2 separate regions of the Homo sapiens genome follow, and region 2 is linked to region 1. Evidence: fine-mapped expression QTL. Tissue or cell type: whole blood. Region 1 holds a variant in brackets; the other region holds the start of a gene. All regions are shown on one strand. Distances are from middle to middle.

Region 1 (10,727 bases):
AACAAACAGATGGGGATTGGTAGCTGGTCCCGGATTCTACATGTGCTGTTCTCAGTATCCAAGCATCTCATCCATCCCTTCCCATACATCATGCTGTACAGAACAAGACAAGACCATGGCATTAGAGCTACAACTGCCCTGCAGGTGCTCACTGCAGGTGCTTATTGCAAGGTGTTCATTGTGGGGTGCTCACTGCAGGGTGCTTACTGTAGGTGCTTACTGCAGGGTGTTCACTGTGGGGTGTTCACTGCAGGTGCTTATTGCAGGGTGCTCACTACAGTTGCTTATTGCAGGGTGTTCACTGTGAGGTGCTCACTGCAGGTGCTTATTGCAGGGTGTTCACTGTGGGGTACTCACTGCAGGTGCTTATTGCAGGGTGCTCACTGCAGGTGCTTACTGCAGGGTGTTCACTGTGGGGTGCTCACTACAGGTGCTTACTGCAGGGTGTTTGTGTAGAGTGCTCACTGCAGGTGCTTATTGTAGGGTGTTCACTGTGGGGTGCTCACTGCAGGTGGTTATTGCAGGGTGTTCACTGTGGGGTGCTCATTGCAGGTGCTTATTGCAAGGTGTTCACTGTGGGGTGCTCACTGCAGGTGCTTATTGCAGGGTGTTCACTGTGAGGTACTCACTGCAGGTGCTTACTGCAGGGTGTTCAAGTGGAGTGCTCACTGCAGGTGCTTATTGCAGGGTGTTATTGCAGGGTGTTCACTGTGGGGTGCTCACCACAGGGGCTTATTGCAAGATGTTCACTGTGGGGTGCTCACTGCAGGTGCTTATTGCAGGGTGTTCACTGTGAGGTACTCACTGCAGGTGCTTACTGCAGGGTGTTCAAGTGGAGTGCTCACTGCAGGCGCTTATTGCAGGGTGTTATTGCAGGGTGGTCACTGTGGGGTGCTCACCGCAGGGGCTTACTGCAGGGAGTTCACTGTGGGGTGTTCACTGCAGATGCTTATTGCAAGGTGTTCACTGTGGGGTCCTCACTGAAGGTGCTCACTACAGGTGCTTATTGCAGGGTGTTCACTGTGGGGTGCTCACTACAGGTGCTTATTGCAGGGTGCTCACTACAGGTGCTTTTGTGGGTCATTAACTGTAGGGTGCTCATTGCAAGTACCACTGCAGGTGTTCACTATAGGTGCTCACTGTAGGTGCTTACTGCAGGGTGTTCACTGTGGGGTGCTCACTGCAGGTGCTTACTGTAGGGTGCTCACCATGGGTGATCACTCCAGGTGCTATTGTAGGTGCTGACCATGGGTGCTCACTGCAAATGCTTATTGCAGGGTGTTCACTGTGGGATGCTCACTGCAGGGTGCTTACTGCCAAAATGGCACGGAAAAAGGCAGGTTAAAGAACTGATGTAGGGTATAATTCCATCATACGTGTGGGTGTGCATGTCCATGAACAAAAAGATGTCTGAAAAGTGAACCACTAAAATGTTCATAACAATTACATCTGAAAAGACTCAGGTGATTTTTATTTTCTCCTTTGTACCTTTGTGTTGTTTGTGTTTATGAAAATACATCACTTTAATAAAAACATTCCAGCTATTAAAAAATGATAACTATTAAGTCTATAGACTATCAGTTTTAAACAGTGAGTCTTCTACTCTAGTTTTCCAAAATTTGAATGACTTAAGGGTATTCTCACTTACAGGGCTGAAATTCCTGAGACCAAGGCAGAATAACACTTACACATCCAAGTAATGACAAGGCCACCTACTTTTCCACAGCAGCACTGTGATAACACCTATTAGCCTCTGAAGTACCGCAAAGGTAAACGGGGACCCCAATAAAATGGTGAGGGGCGAGGCCCATGCAGTACCAAGCAGGGGCCACAGCCACTACCCAGCTGCAAAATGGGGACTGTAGGTGACCATCAGGCACCGTGAGGCCCAAGGACCACCCGGCAAATGAAGAGCTCGTAGTGACGTCATGTTCCATCTACTAGATGGTCAGAGGTTCTTTTTCTCCCACAGGCATTCTAGGGAAAAGCAGTTCCACACAACGATCCAACATCTTTCTGAAAGACTGGAAGAGACACATCGAGGGATTATCACCAACTTACTGCAAGGGCCCGAACCAAACCGGGCAATGGTCTCTATTTCACCATTTTCAAGTTTTACGACCCGGCCATCTGCTGTCCCAGTAAACATCACATCTGTTTAAAAACACAAAAAGGAGGAAGAGCAATGTTAGCCTAAGAAATGTGACTAAGCCGCCTTCTCCTACAAGAGGGCTTGTTTACATGTTCCCCCTGCCCTATAGAGGAAATGCCAATTCTCAAGATGGAAGAGAAGCAATTTCTGGGAATATGAAAAATCCTTAAAACTTACAGTGATAAAACTGCGGGGGCCTAGGGAAGCAGCCTGTGGGCATGAACCTGACTCAAAAGCAAGGGTGCAGCAGATACCAGTCAGTGATGAGAACTGTGAGGATTTTCTCCAGTCCTGAAGCACTCAAGCTGACACTCAGCACTTAGGGGCATGAGTTCATATTCACCTCACATCAGTGTCTGCTGCTGATATTGATTATATCCAACTAAAGGAGAAGAACTGCCAGAAATCCTTTAGAAGAAAATTACAGCACATTAAGTGCTTACTTCAGCAGCACATATACTAAAATTAGAATGATACAGAGAAGACTACTAGCATGCCCCTTGAGCAATGATGATACACAAATTCATAAAACATTCCATAGTTTTCAAATGTATATTGCAAACTCAAGGGTAACCACTACAAAAAGTAAAAAAAAGAAGTATAACTGATATGCTAAGAAAGGAGAGAAAATGGAATCATATAAAATACTCAGTTTAAAACTACAAAAGACAAAAAGAGAGTAGAATGCAAAAATAGAAACAAAGAATAAGGGCAAAGAATAGAAAACAGTAACAAATACGGTAGATATTAATCCAATATATCAATAATCACTTTAAACATAAATGGTCTAAATATACCAACTGAAAGAGAGACATTGCCAGAATTATTCAAAAAACAAGACCCAACTCTATGTTGTGTACAAGAAACCCACTTTAAATATAAAGACATATATAGATTAAAAGTGAAGGGATGAAGAAAGTACATCATGTTAACACTAACCAAAAGCAACCCAGAATAGCTGTATTAAATTCAGACAGAGAACACTTCAGACCAAGGAAAGTTATCAGGGATAAAGAGGAGCATCACACAATGACAAAGGGGTCAATGCCTCAAAAAAACATAAGAACCTTTAATGTGTATATGCTTCACAATAGAGCACCAATATGTGAGGCAAAAACTGATGAAACTGCAAGGAGAAACAGAATCCACTATCACAGTTAGAGACTTCAACAATCTAAACAAGAATAATCACATGATCATATCAACAGATACAGAAAAAAACATCTAGTAACATCCAACACCCATTCATGATTAAAAACTCTCAGCAAGCTGGGAGTAGAGGGGAAACTTTCTTAACTTGATCAAGAATATCTATAAAAAAATCTACATATAACATCATACTTATGGATGACAAACTAGAAGCTTTCCTGCTAAGATCAAGAACAAGGCAAAGATGCCCCTATCACCACTCCTTTTCAGTATCATACTTGAAGACCTAGCTAATGCAGTAAGACATGAAAAGGAAACAAAAGGTATACAGATTGAGAAGAAAGAAATAAAACTTTCTTTGTTTGCAAGTGACATAATTGTCTAGATAGAAAATCTGAAAGAATCAACAACAACAAAAAACCCTCCTGGAACCAAGCAATTATAGCATGGTTGCAGGATATTGCAAGATATTGACTCACCTTCCTTTATACTAACAATGAACAAATGGAATTTGGAATTGAAAACACAATACTATGTACATTAGCATCCAAAAGATTGGCATACTTAGGTATAAATATAATATAATATACACGAGGTCTATATGAGGAAAACTAGAATATTCTGATGAAAGAAATCAAAGAACTAAATAAATGGAGAGATATTCCATGTTCATGGACAGGAATACTCAATATTGTCAAGATGTCAGTTTTTCCCAACCTTAATCTATAGATTCAATGCAATCCCAATCAAAATCCCAGCAAGTTATTTTGTAGATACAGACAAATGAATCCTAAAGTTCATATGGAGAGGGCGAAGACTCAAAATATCCAATACAATATTGAAGGAAAAGAATAAAGTCAGAGGACTGAAACTACTCAACTTCAAGATTCTCTATAAAGCTACAGTAATCAAGACAATGTGGTATTAGCAAAAGAATAGAAAAATAAATCAATAGAACAGATAAAATTTTTAGCCCAGAGACAGACCCACATAAATACAATCAACTGATCTTTTGACAAAGGAGTAAAGGCAATGCATAATGGAGAAAAGACAGTGTTTTCCACAAATGGTGCTGGAACAAATTTGTTTGCATCCACATGCAAACAAATAAATCTAGACACAAACCTTATACCCTTCACAAAAATGGAATTCAAAATGGATCATAGACCTAAAT[A/G]TAAAATACAAAACAAATTCCTAGAACATAGGAGAAAATCTAGGTATGATGATGAATTTTTAGATATAACACCTAGGGTATGATGATGAATTTTTAGATATAAAACCAAGGTGAGATACATGAAGAAATAATTAATAAGTGAAACTTCATTAAAATTAAAAACTCTTGCTCTACAGAAGATACTGTCAAAAGAATGAGAAGCCACAGACTGGAGAAAATATTGGCAAACAACATGTCTGATAAAGAACTATTATCCAAAATACACAAACAACTCTTAAAACTCAACAATAAGAAAATGAACAACCCAATTACAAAAATGGGCAAAAGGCCTGAACAGACACATCACCAAGAAGATATACAGATGGCAGGTAGGCATATGAAGATATTCCACATCAAATATCATCAGAGAAATGCAAATTAAAACAACGAGACACCACTATACACCTATTAAAAGGGCCAAAATCCAAAACACTGACACCACCAAATGCTGGCGAGGACATGGAGCATCAGGAACTCTCACTAATTGTTAATGGGAAGGCAAATGGTACAGCCACTTTGGAAACGCTTGGTGGTTTCTTACAAAACTTAACTCTTACCATACAATCCAGCAATTATGCTTTTCGGTATTTACCCAAATGAGCTGAAAACTTAGGTCCACACAAAAACCTGCCCACAGATGTTTATACCAGCCTTATTCATAACTGCCAAAACTTAGCAGCAACCAAGATGTACTTCAGTAGGTAACTAAACTGTGGCACATCCATACAATGGAATATTACTCAGTGCTAAAAAGAAATGAGCTATCAACCCATGGAAAGACATGGAGGAATTTTAAATAAATGCATACTACTAAGTGAAAGATGCCAATCTGAAAAGGCTACATACTGTATGAGTCCAGCTACATAACATTCTGGAAAAGGCAAAACTATGGAGATGGCAAAAAGATCAGTGGTTGCCATGGGTTAAAAGAAAAGGGTGGAATGAACAGGCAGAGCAAAGAGGATTTTCAGGGCAGTGAAAACACCCTGTAAGATACCATAACAGTGGATACATGGCATTTGTCCAAACCCATAGAATGTATAAAACCAAGAGTGAACCCTACCGTAAACTACAGACTCCGAGTACTATTGACGTATTGATGTGAGTACATCACTTGTAACAAACTTACCCTTGTGGTGGGGGATGTTGATCATGTGGGAGGCTGTGCATGGCATGTGTGCAGAAAAAGTATTTGACGAAATGCAACACCCAATCGTAATAAAAACTCTTTTTCAGAAAATCTCTGTACCTTCTGCTCAATTTTGCTGTGAACCTAAAACTGCTCTTAAAAATAAAGTCTACTTAAAAACAAATAAAATAAAGCCTGCTATAGTTGGTGGTTACTCTCTCCCAGCACTCCCCAGAGCTAGTACCTCCTTCCACTGTCAGCAACCTGCCAGCCAGCCCCCAGGACAGCTTCCAAATGAGGTGGCAGAGACAGCAGTGGCAGGTCCCTGCGGCTCACACCCACCAGAGAGGACCCCACTGTGCCTGGCCAAGAAATGTCACCAGCTCATCAAAGAAAGAGAAAAAGCTGGGACCTGGTGACAAAGTACAATGAGAAGTAACCCAGTGAAAAAGAAAAAGACAGGAAAGTGCTCTCTTTGGGAGGTAAGATCATTGGTTTGCACTTCAACTGCTGTTAAGTTTCAGTTTTAAAGAGCAAGATTTGATTTTTCACCAAAAAAAGCTAAAGCTTTTAAAATTTACACAAATAAATGCCAATGTCTTTTTAAGAGAAATACAAAGTTCTATCATGATATTTACTCTTCTTGAAACAATTTTGACTTTGACAGCCAAGAAAACAAACCAACTGCAGAAATGGACCAGTCCTTGGGGCCTGTGTCAAATAACAGGGCCCAGGCAAGAGAAGCTGGTCAAACGTCACTAGAAGAGAGGCCACTGACCGGCCTTGAGAGCACAACAGAAGCACCCTGTGTGCACATATCCACAGCCACCCACTGCCTGGAGAACAGTGTGCTTCAGAATAACAAGCGGCACTTCCAAAGAAGCTGCTCAGCAAGCCCATACCAGATTAAGTTTTAAACTATCTGTGACTATCTGTGCCTTCCCAATACTAAACTTAATTCTCATTTTAACAAACAGAAAATGCCTTGTTCAAGGTTGCTAGAGATGCAAGTATTAGAACCAGACCCAATTCTAGTTCTGAGGCATGGGCAAGTGTGATGCAGATGGTTACCCTTAAGTGTACCCATCAAGGTGAGATTTCAAACAGTCAGACAAAAACAGTGGAAATATTGAGAACCATTTGTCTTCATCACAGTGAAATCTATACAAAGCAAATGGAACTAAGAAATACTGTGCTGTCAAATAGCTATTTAACTTTGATAAATGAACTAAAAATCAGTATCTGTATTTGGCCTTTTTCCTTTCACAACACTTTGAGCACAACAAAGTGTTCCATAGAGATGAATTCAAAATCACCCAGTGCTAAAATGGCATGCAAACTGGGCAGATGAGACCAGCAGAAAGAGCCACTAGGGCCTCCCATGTGATGTCTGAGGGCCAAGTCCCACGTCCGCAGCTAAGAAGGATGTGCAGGGCCCCAGTCCAGGGGCAGCGTGCCACTGCAGCTGCTCCCACAGAACCCGCCCCCTCAGACAACAGACAGCCTGGAAGGCTCCCCCCCCACCCAAGCTTAGACTTACCCCCAATATGTGCTATGGACTCCGGTCCAACAAGTTGATTTTCAAACAGCCTTTCTGCCTGTCGCAGCTTCGTATTTGGATGCAGAACACCAAGCAAGAGCGGGGGTTCTTTGAAGCTGCAAAATAATGCAATTCCAGAGATCTGTCTATAAATACACATGTGAAGAAAATGTGTACCGAGCACCTGCTCTCAGTTCTTTGATAAAGATGGCACTTTCTAACAACATCCTCAGTTGCCAGAAATACAAGGGTTAAGAAAAAACTGTTCTAGGATATCAGAAAACATCATGGTACAAAAGAAATATAAAAATATAAATGTGCTAGTGCAAGACCTTCAGCAATCTTGTCACCTGAGAGCATCCTGAGGCCTGTGCCCACCCATCCTCCAGCCTCCCCAGCTCCCCACCCCCATCCAATGCCTCAGGGCAGCTGGACCTCCTCACCCCTGTGACTCACAGCCCTACAGCCACTGGAGTCTACCTAGGGTGGTGGGGGGCAGTGCCCACGTTTCACACCTGATGACCCGGCCTCGTATTTCACAGAGAAGATGGAAGGAGCAAGGGGAGACCTTCCTGGGACTGGAGCCACCGTCCCATGGTCCAGCACAGGGCACGCCACCTCCCGCTGATATTCTCGAGGCCCACCAGGCTCTTCCTGAAGCAGGAGCCTGAGCTGGGCCCTGGAGCCCTTCTACTCACAGACACGGCTCCAGAAACTCCTGCCTCTACTCGTCCTTCCCATCCACATGCCAGTATGTCACGCCTCCCAACCCACCATCAAGTTCTGCTGAGGCCACTTTGAAAAGACACCATTGAACCCGTCTCCCCATGTCCTCCTTACAACCCTGGCTGGGGCCACCATCCTCTCGCCTCGCCCCTGCTCCCTCCCTTGACCCCTGTAGTCTATTCTCAATCCAGCAGCCATGCCGGATCATGACCTTCCTCTATTCAGAGCCCCACAATGGCCCCCTCTCACCTAGAGCCAAGTCCTGGCAGCAGCCTCTGAGCACCGCAACCTGGCCACAGCACCTTCTTGCCCCCTCTCTCCCTTGTGCCTTCTGCATCCCTCACACCAGCCCCTCCCTGCTGGGTCCTAACCACACCAGCATCTCCCTATCCAGGGCCTTCACACCAGCTCTTTGCTCCACTTGGAACAGCAACCATCCCCCACCCAGGAGGCCCACTCTGACCACCCAACTAAATATCCGATACCTCCCCCGAACCCAGGCCCCTGCCCTACTCCATGCTCCTCATAGCACACACCAGCTTCTCATGCACTGTGTGATCTGCTTCTGTTATGTTTATGGTCTGTTTGTCCCCACTAGAACATACGCTCCATGAGATCAGGGATTTCTTTCTGTGTTTTTCTCTACTGTATTCCCAGCATCTGGCACCCAACATGGCACACAGAAGGCTCCCAACGAGCACTGCTGGAGGAAACCAAAGTAGAGAGGAATATCTTCCGATTATCCCCTGTCCCCTGCCTCCAGCAAGGCAGAGAATTCAAGAACAGGAAGGAGCTAAGCGTTGGGGAAAAGTTTATGACAACAGCAAAAAGAGCTTCTTTAAAGCTCTCTTCACAGCAAAAGAGGAAGGAAGGGAAACCCCACCTGGGGCAATTGGTGCCATGCTACGATGACAAGCAGAGCTGCCAGCTTCGCTCGGCCTCGGTCACCTCAACACGCCGGGCAGCATGGGGTCACCATAGTCAAGAGGCCATGCTCGGCCTCGGTCACCTCTACACGCTGGGCAGCGCGGGGCCACCATGGTCAAGAGGCTATGCCACGATGACAAAAGCAGACCTACCAGCTTCGCTTGGCCTCGGTCACCTCTACGCGCCGGGCAGTGCAGGGCCACCACAGTCAAGAGGCCATGCTACCATGACAAAAGCAGACCTACCAGCTTCGCTCAGCCTCTGTCACCTCTACACACTGGGCAGCGTGGCGTCACCATGGTCAAGAGGCCATGCCACAATGACAAAAGCAGACCTACCAGCTTCGCTCGGCCTCGGTCACTTCTACACACCGGGCAGTGTGGGGTCACCATGGTCAAGAGGCCATGCCACGATGACAAGCAGAGCTGCCAGCTTCGCTCGGCCTCCATCACCTCTACACGCCAGGCAGCGCAGGGCCACCATGGTCAAGAGGATCAGGCCAGCAGACGGGGCAGAAACGGCCACTCAGCTGATGGACGGGTGTTTGGGAGTCTACCCAGGATACTACATCACTCCCGTGAGAGCTTAGACCACACTTAGAAATCTCTAAAAAATCAGAGAACAGGCAGACCAGGAGTATGGAGGGACAAAGAGAAGGATGGTCGCTCTTCCAGTCTGGACTATTACACAGCTGGTTTCAGTACTTGAGAACAAAATCACCAGGAAGGCTGCAGGGCTTTGCCAAAAACCTGCCCTGCAAAGTCACTTTCCCTTCTTTCTGGGAAGATTAGAGGGCTGTCATAGACACAGCATATATGACATCCTGATTCCTATAGCATGTACAGAGTAGTTTTCAAGATCCCTGTGACAACGTGGGGAGATGTGAACAGAGTAACAGGGCATCTGTATGATCACGGATGGCTGGCACAAGTGAAGAAAGCCTGCACTAATGCAGTAATACTCAACTGCAGAGAAGTGACCCACTGTGACCCACAGACTGCACAAAGGTTTTCCTAAGCACTTCTGAGAACCAGCTCTCTGAGGTCCCCCACATCTCTCTCCCTAACACAGGAAGCCAGGGTGTGGGGCACTGCTCTCTCCCTCCCCAGCGGGTCTCCTGTTGGCCCTGCCTGAGTTTTATACAGTGCTTCTATTTGCTCTTGATGTCCCAGACCACCCATAAAGGTTGTTGCTATTTTTTAATATCTCTCAGTTTGACAGTTTCACCCGATAGTAAAATGTGTACTTCTAACAGTACTGCAACTTTCAACTCCCAGTAGAATTACTCTTTCTGTTGGTCTTTAAAATTATAGCAACCAAATCCATTCTCCAAAATGCTGCTCTATTTTTTTTTACCATAAATTTGACTTTAACTGATATTTTTTCAGTGACTAGAAACATTCATATCCTTCTATGAAAAATAAACTTTTTGTTCCCTTCTGGAGAGAAACCATGTCCTTCCACAGAGTGACTGTGGGCTGAGAGGGCTGCAGCTGAGTCAGCACCCGCTGGGATGGCGTGCATGGGGCATGGCCTGTGTTGTGGCCACGTTCTTGCATGAGACACACCAAGCTCTGTCATGTACCAGGCTTCTGCTTCTGCTCTGCATTTTGGGGCCTATCTTCCTGTTTTTGAGTGTGCCATGCCAAAAGCAGAGCCCAGGAGAGAGGCCCCTGTTGGCTGTGATTCCAATGCCATAAGCTGAGCCCAGGAGAGAGGTCCCTGTTGGCTGTGATGGTTCCACTGCCATTCTGAAAGCTGAGCCCAGGAGAGAGAGAGAGACCCGTTGGCTGTGACAGTTCCACTGCCATTCCAAAAGCTGAGCCCAGGAGAGAGGTCCCTGTTGGCTGTGATGGTTCCACTGCCATTCCGAAAGCTGAGCCCAGGAGAG
Region 2 (10,727 bases), 28 kb before region 1:
TGCTGAGATGTTCATCCTCGGAAGCTGCAGTCAGGACCTACCTTCCCATGGAGTTGCCACAGCCAGATGCCCACTCACCCCATAGGGAGAGAGAGCCTCCTGCCTGGGGCCACTTGGAACACCAGAAGTTTGGGCAGGAGGGGTATACGGTTTGGAGAAGAAAATCAAGTGATTTCTCAAAACTGGTTATTCTAGTTAGCAATTCATCTAACTTTTTTTTTTTTTTGACCTGATGTTGTTGAAAAACACAGCATGAGAACTTTGTGAAGCATACACAAGTATCATAGCCAAATCAATCAAGTGGAAGAAAGGATATCAGAAATTGAGGATCAACTTAATGAAATAAAGCAAGAAGACAAGATGAGAGCAAAAGGAATGAAAAGGAATAAACAAAGCCTCCAAGAAATATGGGACTATGTGAAAAGACCAAATCTACATTTGATTGGTGTACCTGAAAGTGACAGGGAGAATGGAACCAAGCTGGAAAACACTCTTCAGGATATTATCCAGGATAACTGCCCCAACCTAGCAAGACAGGCCAACATTCAAATTCAGGAAATATAGACAACACCACAAAGATACTCCTTGAGAACAGCAGCCCCAAGACACATAATCATCAGATTCACCAAGCTTGAAATGAAGGAAAAATGTTAAGGGCAGCCAGAGAGAAAGGTTGGGTTACCCACAAAGGAAAACCCATCAGACTAACAGCAGATCTCTCTGCAGAAACCCTACAAGCCAGAAGACAGTGGGGGCCAATATTCAACATTCTTAAAGAAAAGAATTTTCAACCCAGAATTGCATATCCAGCCAAACTAAGCTTCATAAGTGAAGGAGAAATAAAATCCTTTACAGACAAGCAAATGCTGGGAGATTTTGTCACCACCAGGCCTGCCTTACAAGAGCTCCTGAAGGAAGCACTAAACATGGAAAGGAACAGCTGGTACCAGCCACTGCAAAAACATATCAAATTGTAAAGACCATTGACACGATGAAGAAACTGCATCAACTCATGGGCAAAATAACCAGCTAGCATCATAATGACAAGATCAAAATCATAATAATAATATTAACCATAAATGTAAATGGGCTAAATGCCCCAATTAAAAGACACAGACTGGCAAATTGAATGGAGTCAAGACTCATTGGTGTGCTGTGTTCAGGAGACCCATCTCACATGCGAAGACACAAATAGGCTCAAAATAAATACATGGAGGAATATTTACCAAGCAAATGGAAACCAAAAACAAAGCAAGGGTTGCAATCCTAGTCTCTGATAAAACAGACTTCAAACCAACAAAGATCAAAAACGACAAAGAAGGGTATTACATAATGGTAAAGGTATTAATTCAACAAGAAGAACTAACTATCCTAAATATACATGCACCCAATACAGAAGCACCTACATTCATAAAGCAAGTTCTTAGAGACCTACAAAGAGACCTACACTCCCACACAATAATAATGGGAGATTTTAACACCCTGTCAATATTATAACAATGAGACAGAAAATTAATAAGGATATTCAGGATTTGAACTAAGCTCTGGACCATGCAGACCTAATAGACATCTACAGAACTCTCCACCCCAAATCAACAGAATATACATTCTTCTCAGCATCTCATTGCACTTATTCTAAAATTGACCACATAATTGGAAGTAAAACACTCCTCAGCAAATACTAAAGAATGGAAGTCATAACAAACAGTCTCTCAGACCACAGTGCAATCAAATTAGAACTCAGGATTAAGAAACTCACTCAAACCTGAACAACTACATGGAAACTGAACAACCTGCTCCTGAATGACTACTGCGTACATAATGAAATTAAGGCAGAAATAAAGATGTTCTCTGAAACCAATCAGAACAAAGACACAATGTACCAGAATCTCTAGGACACATTTATAGCAGTGTGTAGAGGGAAATTTATAGCACTAAATGCCCACAAGAGAAAGCAGGAAAGATCTAAAATTGACACCCTAACATCACAAGTAAAAGAACTAAAGAAGCATGAGCAAACAAATTCAAAAGCTAGCAGAAGACAAGAAATAACTAAGATCAGAGCAGAACTGAAAGTGATAGAGACATGAAAAACCTTTCAAAAAATCAATGAATCAAGGAGCTGGTGTTTTGAAGAGATCAACAAAATAGATAGACCACTAGCAAGACTAATAAAGAAGAAAAGAGAGAAGAATCAAATAGATGCAATAAAAAATGATAAAGGGGATATCACCAGTGATCCCATAGAAATACAAACTACCATCAGAGAATACTGTAAATGCCTCTAAACTAATAAACTAGAAAATCTAGAAGAAATGGGTAAATTCCTGGACACACACACCCTCCCAAGTCTAAACCAGGAAGAAGTCGAATCCCTGAATCGATCAATAACAAGTTCTGAAATTGAGGCAGTAATTAATAGCCTACCAACCAAAAAAAAGTCCAGGACCAGATGGATTCACAGCTGAATTCTACCAGAGGTACAAAGAGGCGCTGCTACCATTCCTTCTGAAACTATTCCAAACAAGAGAAAAAGAGGGAATCCTCCCTAACTCATTTTATGAGGCCAGCATCATCCTAATACCAAAACCTGGCAGAAACACAACAAAAAGAAAATTTCAGGCCAATATCCCTGATGTCCCATCAATGTGAAAATCCTCAATAAAATATGGCAAACTGAATCCAGCAGCACATCAAAACTTATCCACCATGATCAAGTCAGCTTCATACCTGGAATGCAAGGCTGGTTCAACATATGCAAATCAATAAACGTAATCCAGCATATAAACAGAACCAATGAGAAAAACCACATGATTATCTTAATAGATGCAGAAAAGGCCTTCAACAAAATTCAACACCCCTTCATGCTAAAAACTCTGAATAAAGTAGGTTTTGATGAACTGTATCTTAAAATAATAAGAGCTATTTATGACAAACCCACAGCCAATATCATACTGAATGGACAAAAACTTGAAGCATTCCCTTTGAAAACTGGCACAAGACTAGGATGCCCTCTCTCACCACTCCTATTCAACATAGTGTTGGAAGTTCTGGCCAGGGCAATTAGGCAGGAGAAGGAAATAAAGAGTATTCAAATAGGAAAAGAGGGAGTCAAATTGTCTCTGTTTGCAGATGACATGACTGTATATTTAGAAAACCCCATCATCTCAGCCCAAAATCTCCACAAGCTGATAAGCAACTTCAGCAAAGTCTCAGGATACAAAATCAATGTGCAAAAATCACAAACATTCCTATACACCAATAATAGACAAACAGAGAGTGAAATTATAAGTGAACTCCCATTCACAATTGCTACAAAGAGAATAAAATACCTAGGAATACAACTTACAAGGGATGTGAAGGACCTCTTCAAGGAGAACTACAAACCACTGTTCAAGGAAATAAGAGAGGATACAAATAAATGGAAAAACATTCCATGCTCATGGATAGGAAGAATCAATGTTGTGAAAATGGCCATACTGCCCAAAGTAATTTATAGATTCAGTGATATCCCCCATCAAGCTATCATTGACTTTCTTCACAGAATTGGAAAAAACTACTTTAAAGTTCATAGGGAACCAAAAAAGAGCCTGCATAGCCAAGACAATCCTAAGCAAAAAGAACAAAGCTGGAGGCATCATGCTATCTGACTTCAAACCATACTACAAGCCTACAGTAACCAAAACAGCATGGTACTGGTACCAAAACAGATATATAGACCAATGGAACAGAACAGAAGCCCAGAAATAACACCACACATCAACAACCACCTGATCTTTGACAAACCTGACTAAAACAACCAATGGGGAAAGGATTCCCTATTTAATAAATGGTGTTGGGAAAACTGGCTAGCCATTTGCAGAAAACTGAAACTGGACCCCTTCCTTACACCTTATACAAAAATTAACTCAACATGGATTAAGGACTTAAGACCTAAAACCATAAAAACCCTAGAAGAAAACCTAGGCAGTACCATTCAGGACATAGGCATGGGCAAAGACTTCATGACTAAAACACCAAAAGGAATAGCAACAAAAGCCAAAATTGATAAATGGGACCTAATTAAACTAATGAACTTCCACACAGCAAAAGAAACTGTCATCAGAGTGAACAGGCAACCTACAGAATGGGAGAAAATTTTTGCAATATATCCATTTGACAAAGAGCTAATGTCGAGAATCTACAAGGAACTTAAACAATTGACAAGAAAAAAACAACCCCATCAAAAATTGGGTGAAGGATATGAACAGACACTAAAAAGAAGACATTTATGCAGCCAAGAAACATATGAAAAAACGCTCATCATCACTGGTCATTAGAGAAATGCAAATCAAAACCACAATGAGGTACCATCTCATGCCAGTTAGAATGGTGATCGTTAAAAAGTCAGGAAGCAACAGATGCTGGAGAGGATGTGGAGAAATAGGAACGCTTTTACACTGTTGGTGGGAGTGTAAATTAGTTCAACCATTGTGGAAGACAGTGTGGTGATTCCTCAAGGATCTAGAACCAGAAATACCATTTGACCCAGCAATTTCATTACTGGGTATATACTCAAAAATCATTCTACTATAAAGACACATGCACACGTATGTTTACTGCAGCACTAGTCACAATAGCAAAGACTTGGAACCAACCCAAATGCCCATCAATGGTAGACTGGATAAAGAAAATGTGGCACATATACACCATGGAATACTATGCAGCCATAAAAAAGATGAGTTCATGTCCTTTGCAGGGACATGGATGAAGCTGGAAACCATCATTCTCAGCAAACTAACACAAGAACAGAAAACCAAACACCGCATGTTCTCATTCATAGGTGGGAGTTGAACAATGAGAACACATGGACACAGGGAGGGGAACATCACACACCAAGGACTATCTGGGGATCCGGGGCCAGGGGAGGGATAGCATTTGGAGAAATACCTAATGTAGATGATGGGTTGATGGGTGCAGCAAACCACCATGGCACGTGTATACCTATGTAACAAACCTGCATGTTCTGCACATGTACCCCAGAACTTAAGTAATTAAAAGAAAAAGGAAAATCAAGTGATTTTGCTTTTGAAAATTCCTGCTAATGTTTTTCATGCAACATCTCTTTCGTGTGTGGCTCAGGGGTAGAACATTGCATCAGGATTTGCTCATGGGTCTCATGTCTCTTCCTCCTCCCCCAGCAAATGACGGCTGCTCGGAAACTTTTATAAAGGAAGCGGTTGCTTTGTGGCTGATAGATCTGAAGGTGAAGAGCTTCTGGCCAAAATGATTCAGCAGCAAAACACTCCCCTCCCCAGCACCACGCAGGCAGCCCCCTAGCCCCGCCCCTGCCCCATCCCACAGTGGTTTGCAGGGTGGGGTTCCATGCTGTGGCCCTGGCACCTGCCCCTGGGCTGGGACAGCCCACTGTTCCATGCTGCCCAAGAAGGCTCAGCACAGGCACAAACCATTGCCCGGCACTGGCCCGTGCTGCCTGAGAAGGATTGGCACGGGCACAGACCACTGCCCCCACCTGCCCTGCGCCATCTACCCAAGAAGGCTCGGCACGGGCACCAACCACTGCCTCCAACTGCCCCATGCTGCCTGAGAAGGCACTGCACGGCCACCCCCAACTGCCCCGCACTGTCCCTACCCGGGCAGCCATGCGAGCGGCTGGAACTCTGCTGGCCTTCTGCTGCCTGGTCTTGAGCACCACTGGGGGCCCTTCCCCAGGTAAGTGGCGTTCTCCCCTGTCCGCTCCCCGGGGGTCTCTCCCTGAGATTGGCCACTGGTGCCTTGGGTCTTCCCCAGGGCACTTTCCTAGCTTGGAGCCCCCACAGGACCATGCGGTGGTGAGAGGTGCTGGGAGTGGTGAGAGGGGCAAGGGGCTCCATCTGGCTGCAGCTACCTTTGGGGGTAGCAGGCTACAGGGATGAAGGGTTTGGGGGCTGCCCCAGAAGGCTAGGGGCAAGGGAAGCATCTTCTATTCTCTGGCTCTTCACAGAGGTCTGAGAAAGGTCTAAGTAAGGCAGGTCTCCCGCAGCTCCTCTGCGGGACGGAGGCGACAGGGCAGCCACATGCCTGTGGTTAGCCGCTTCTATCTGATGGCTTGTCATTCCTTCCTGCTGGCTGTTGTCCTGTGACTTGGCTCCAGGGACCCTAACGATCAGACTCTTTCACCCTTCCTGAAATCCACTCCCTGAGGGTCAGCACTCAGGGGGAGGGGGGACAGGGAGGAAAGAGCCACTGCCTGTGCACTGGGAAACTGAGACACAGCCAGGCTAGGTGATTTGCCCAAGTCACACAGCCAGGGACAACCTGCTCTCCCCCAAAGGGAACTGGGCCATGGCCTCCCTGGCACAGGAATCAGACCAGGATACTGATGGGGACTTGGGAGGCCCCCACCTCATTTAACCAACCAGGAAGCTGGCACCAGAGGGCTGAGGTGACCCGCTCAAGTCATATGACCCCCACCCAGCAGACAGGGACAGAAGGGGGCTGGAGCCTGGCCAAAGGGGCCCAGGTGGGGGCTGTGCAGCAGGACCACTGACAAGAGGATGGCTCCAGAGCACCCAAGGGGTTCTTGGAGGGTTCTCACCTCCTCCTGGTGAGTCAGGATACTGAGGACTCAGTGATGCTGGGGGACACTGTGTCGAGCTCCCAGGCCTGGCCTAGGGCGGACGCTGCGACTGAGCAGCCAAGGGGACACGGCAGGCTGGAGGAGGGGCCGGGGGCAGCTTCTGCTCTCACTGATGGGAACATGCCACCGCCACCAGCTCTGGGTAGTGCTCAGCGAACATGGAGCTGACCCATGGCTGGCAGAAGGCTGGGGACAGCATACCCGGCCCTGCCTCCCAGCTTGGGAGCCTTCTTAGCTCACGCAAGGAGCCCTCCACCTGCTTCCCAGCCTCACAGGGGCCTCTCCTCCTGGCCCTGTCCTGATGCAGTGCTGCCTGCCTGCTGCCATTCTGTGCCCTGCCCCTTCGTGTCTCCAAGGTCCAAGGGGGAAGCAGGGAAGAGAGGCAAGTTCACTCCAGAGAAGTGGCTCGTTCTCACACCTCAGAAAAGGCTCTCCTGGAGGGGACATGGAGCCAGCTGTCCTAGCGTGTCCTGGGATCTAATTAAACCTACTGACTGCTGAGGGGTTTCAGAGCTCTGCTCATCTCACGGAGCAGGCTAGGGACTATAACAGGGTGGCGTGGGAGCCGATGTGCTGGGCAGCTGGCAACGTCATTTTCCTGGGTGGTGTTCCCGGCCCCTCGCTGGTATGTAATGCTGCACCAAGCCTTTCCCTCCATTCTCAGCAGACCTGCTGTCAGCCACCAAACCCCAGAGAGAAGCTCCAGAGCCCACGTTCACACACACAGAGCGGGCCCTCAGCCTCAGTCCTACCATCCATGAAATGGGAAGATAACTGCACCCCGTCTCCGGCCCTGGGGAGGCTGAACAGAGGTGGCTCGGGGAAGGCACAGGCATGGAGGCACATGGGGCATGGGGTGCTCTCCGCCAGCCTCAGCCCCCTGCTCTGTCTAGTGCAGGCCCTTCTGCCACTGTGCTGGTGACAGCCCCCAGCACCCTGCCCAGGCGCTGTGATCATTTCTGGTGCTTCCAGCAAGGGCCTTCAGTCTTCGGCTGTATAGGGAGGGTGCTGGGAGGCCCCCAGTCTAGCAGCAAAAAAGAGATGGGAACCTGGGCCCCAGACACAAGCATGCGTCCTGCCCCCACTCCACAACTCCTACAGCCCCTCCGCTGCCTCCTCTGAGAATAAATTACAGAGCCTTCCTCATGACTGAGGGGGGTAGGGGGCGGGGAAGCAACAGGGACCCCAAGGGTGGTGCCGTCTGAGCATCTGGCCTCTCTCCACACCCATGCACTGAACTGCACAGACCATAGCGCTGAGCCCCTCAGGGCACCTCTCCTCCCTGAGGCTTTCAGAACCTAGGAAATTGCCACACTGGCTTCCGCCACCCTTTTGAAAAGGGCTGTTTCTTTCTCAATCTGATGGGCATCTCTTCTGGGAAGCTCTGCCAGGTGCCATGTCATCCTCTGCCCCCTCCACTCTAGCTGCAACGGCCCATCTGCCTGGACAGGGGCCCTGGGGTCAGGGAGCCATTTCAGCTTCCCTCTGCAAGGTGATGTCAGTCCTTACTTCCCAGTAGCAGAGAGACCACTTGCAGCCCGGGGACCTCCTGCCTCCTGGGGAGCACTGGGAGCTGCCGCAGGCTGAGCCACCGTCTACGTGGCAAGATTTGTTTTTCCCAATGGGGGCATTCATTTGCCCTGAGACCCCTGCTGTGGCCATGTGCATTTTGATATATTGATAATGATTACAGTTTTGCACATCATTTATTGACAAGTGCTTCGTGTATGTTGCCTCATATATTCTCACTGTCGTCAGCATCCTCATTTTACAGGTGAGGACACGGAGGCTCAGAGAGGTTAGGCAGCTTGCCTGAGATCATACAGCCAGTGAGAAGCAGAGCTGGAATTCAAACTCCGGGTGTGTCCCAGTGGGTTAAGGTCGGGACTGATCTGGTAGAGCTCAGTGTCCTGTCTGTGCCAGGGGCATGTGTGTGCCCTCAAAAGATAGACTCCGCCATTAGCCATCAGGCAGAGACCCAAGAGCACAGCGGGCAGGTGTGGCCCCAAGGACCCAGGCTCTCTGAATTTTGATGGTGTCATGTGAGAGGGCTTGGGGTGAAGCGTCTCCAGGTGGGCAGAGTGAACACCAGCACCTCTAAGCTGGACTTGCACCCCCCCAACACCCCAGTGCTCAGGCACAGCCATGCAGACCTTATGCTCTGGGTGATGGGGGCCGATGGGGCCCCTCTCAAAGGGTCTCCCCACCCAGCTCAGTACTGGCCCATGGAAAGGGCACCCCCTGAGGTGACACAGGGAGGGACACCAGCAGGGACCATCTGCGTCCAGCTCTCGGCACCCAGGTCCCCATCTCAGGGATGGTTTCACAAGCAGGGGCTTCCCAACCTCCCGGCCACACCTAGAACACTCCTGAAAGAGGGAGGAGGTGGGCAATGCCAGCCCCCGCTGTGCCCACCCATTTTCCTACTAAAGGCAGGTGGGAAGGGTCTGCCTGGTGCCACCACAGCGATCCCTGCCCATGTTTTCTCTCCTCAGGTTGGCTTAGTGCCAGCTCTGCCACTGGGCCTATGCTCTGAGGACAGGAACGTACCCTGCCCAGGGCATGCCCAGCAGCTGTCAGAAACTGCAGCTCCCTGCTGCCTTGGGCAGAGGCCCTGGCAACTCCCCTGGCCTGGCAGCTTCACATCTGCACCCCATTGCACACTGGTCCTCGGGCACCCGGACAGGACTTTGCCCCATGCACACAGCCAGTAGATGCTCAGAAACACGGGGCTGCAGCAGAAAAGCAGGGTGATCGCAGGATCACCAGACAAGGAGATGGAGGAAACTCAAATCCATCTCCCCGAGGAGGCTGGGGCCCGGGTTTTTAAGGGTTCTGGAGCTCGATAGCTGGAAGGGGCAGCGTGATGTCACAGCACAGGGAGAGGAAGAAGCTGTATTTTCGTGATGATCCTGTTCCTCCGTGGGGGGTTTCCAAACTGGTTGCTGGAATTGGGATCTGAAAAACATCTTGGGCCAGCAGCAGCCTGATTCAAGCTTAATTATGAGTATCTTTCTGTCCAGAACCTGGCATGCAATTCTTGTCAACCTTAGGGGACAGTTTCATTTGCCTTCCTGTGACCATGTGTCCTGGGGCCTGCTCAGCACCTGGTATCATCAGGCCCTGCCCGCCCCTGCCTCACCTCCAGCTTCTACGTCTGGAAGCTCCCTACCTGTCTCAGGCATGGCCCACCTCCCCTCCCACCCCGCATTAGAAGCAGTGGTGGGCTGGGGTCAGGCTGCCCCGGCAGGCTCCTGGTGCGAGCCTCGCACATGGCAGGTCCCCCATTCCCCTCGAGCAGGCCTGGCCTGCCCCAGGCATTGTTTCTATACAGACGGATTTTATGTGCCTTTTGTTTCTTCTCACAAGCCTGACGGTCCGTGGGTTCTTTCCGTTGACGTCATCGCGGCCATCACCACCATCACCCTCTGCACCCAGCAGCAGCCTCCAGCGGGGTCTCCCCAACTCTTCCCAGCACGTAGCTCCCTCCTCCCCTAGGCCAGTTCAGCCACCTTGCAGCTGCTCCCCCATCCCCTGCCCCTCTGCTCACCCATTTTACCCTCAGGTTGGTGTCCTCTCCTGTGCCCCAGGCCTGCTCTGCCTCCCCACCACTGTGGGCGGGGCCTGTCTTAGAGTCCACCCTGCATCTCCCCTAGCACCTGCCAAACAGTCCGTCTTGAATGAGGAAAAAGTGAGAGTGGTGTTTCGAATTAGTCACACCTGGGTTTAGCCCCCCACCCTGCACTCCAAGCTCTTGGTCTCCTCGCCTGCAGAATGGGCACACATGAGAAGAAACAGCATCGCAGGGCCCTCCAGACAGAGCAGGCAGAGGAGGAGAGCACCCATTCTCCCGCTCCCTGCCTTCAGTTGCACGGAGCAAACCCAGAGCCCCCTCCCTGGGGGGTCCTCTTCACAGTTCCTTGACTCCATCGGAGGCTCTCAAAGAGCTGCATTCGCTCACCACCTGCTGGACTGCTTGTTTTCTTCCCTGAAGATGAGTGGCCTCTTTGGGGTGTTAATTCTTAATGATCAACATTTCCTTGTTAATTTCTCTAAACAAATCATCCTAAAAATAGGTTTGACTTTTAAACAATTTTAAATTAAAAAC

What was found. PIP is the estimated chance that this variant, and not a neighbour inherited with it, causes the effect.
Region 2: CST7 starts here. The variant in region 1 is the best candidate, but not a certain one, in a credible set for the expression of CST7 in whole blood (INTERVAL, PIP 0.84).

What each region holds. Positions count from the first base shown.
Region 1 is chr20:24,971,584-24,982,310 of GRCh38, forward strand. APMAP (adipocyte plasma membrane associated protein) reads right to left here. Exons shown (of 9, transcript NM_020531.3): 3 at 7,184-7,299; 4 at 2,062-2,154. It also overlaps the pseudogene RNU6-1257P. Among named protein-coding and RNA genes, the nearest start is that of APMAP, 16 kb to the right of the region's middle. RefSeq lists enhancers at 7,802-8,302, 9,064-9,564. The variant A/G (reference allele first, on the strand shown) is at 4,476.
Region 2 is chr20:24,943,864-24,954,590 of GRCh38, forward strand. CST7 (cystatin F) reads left to right here and starts at 5,406. Exons shown (of 4, transcript NM_003650.4): 1 at 5,406-5,712. The coding sequence starts at 5,643. RefSeq lists an enhancer at 5,072-5,121.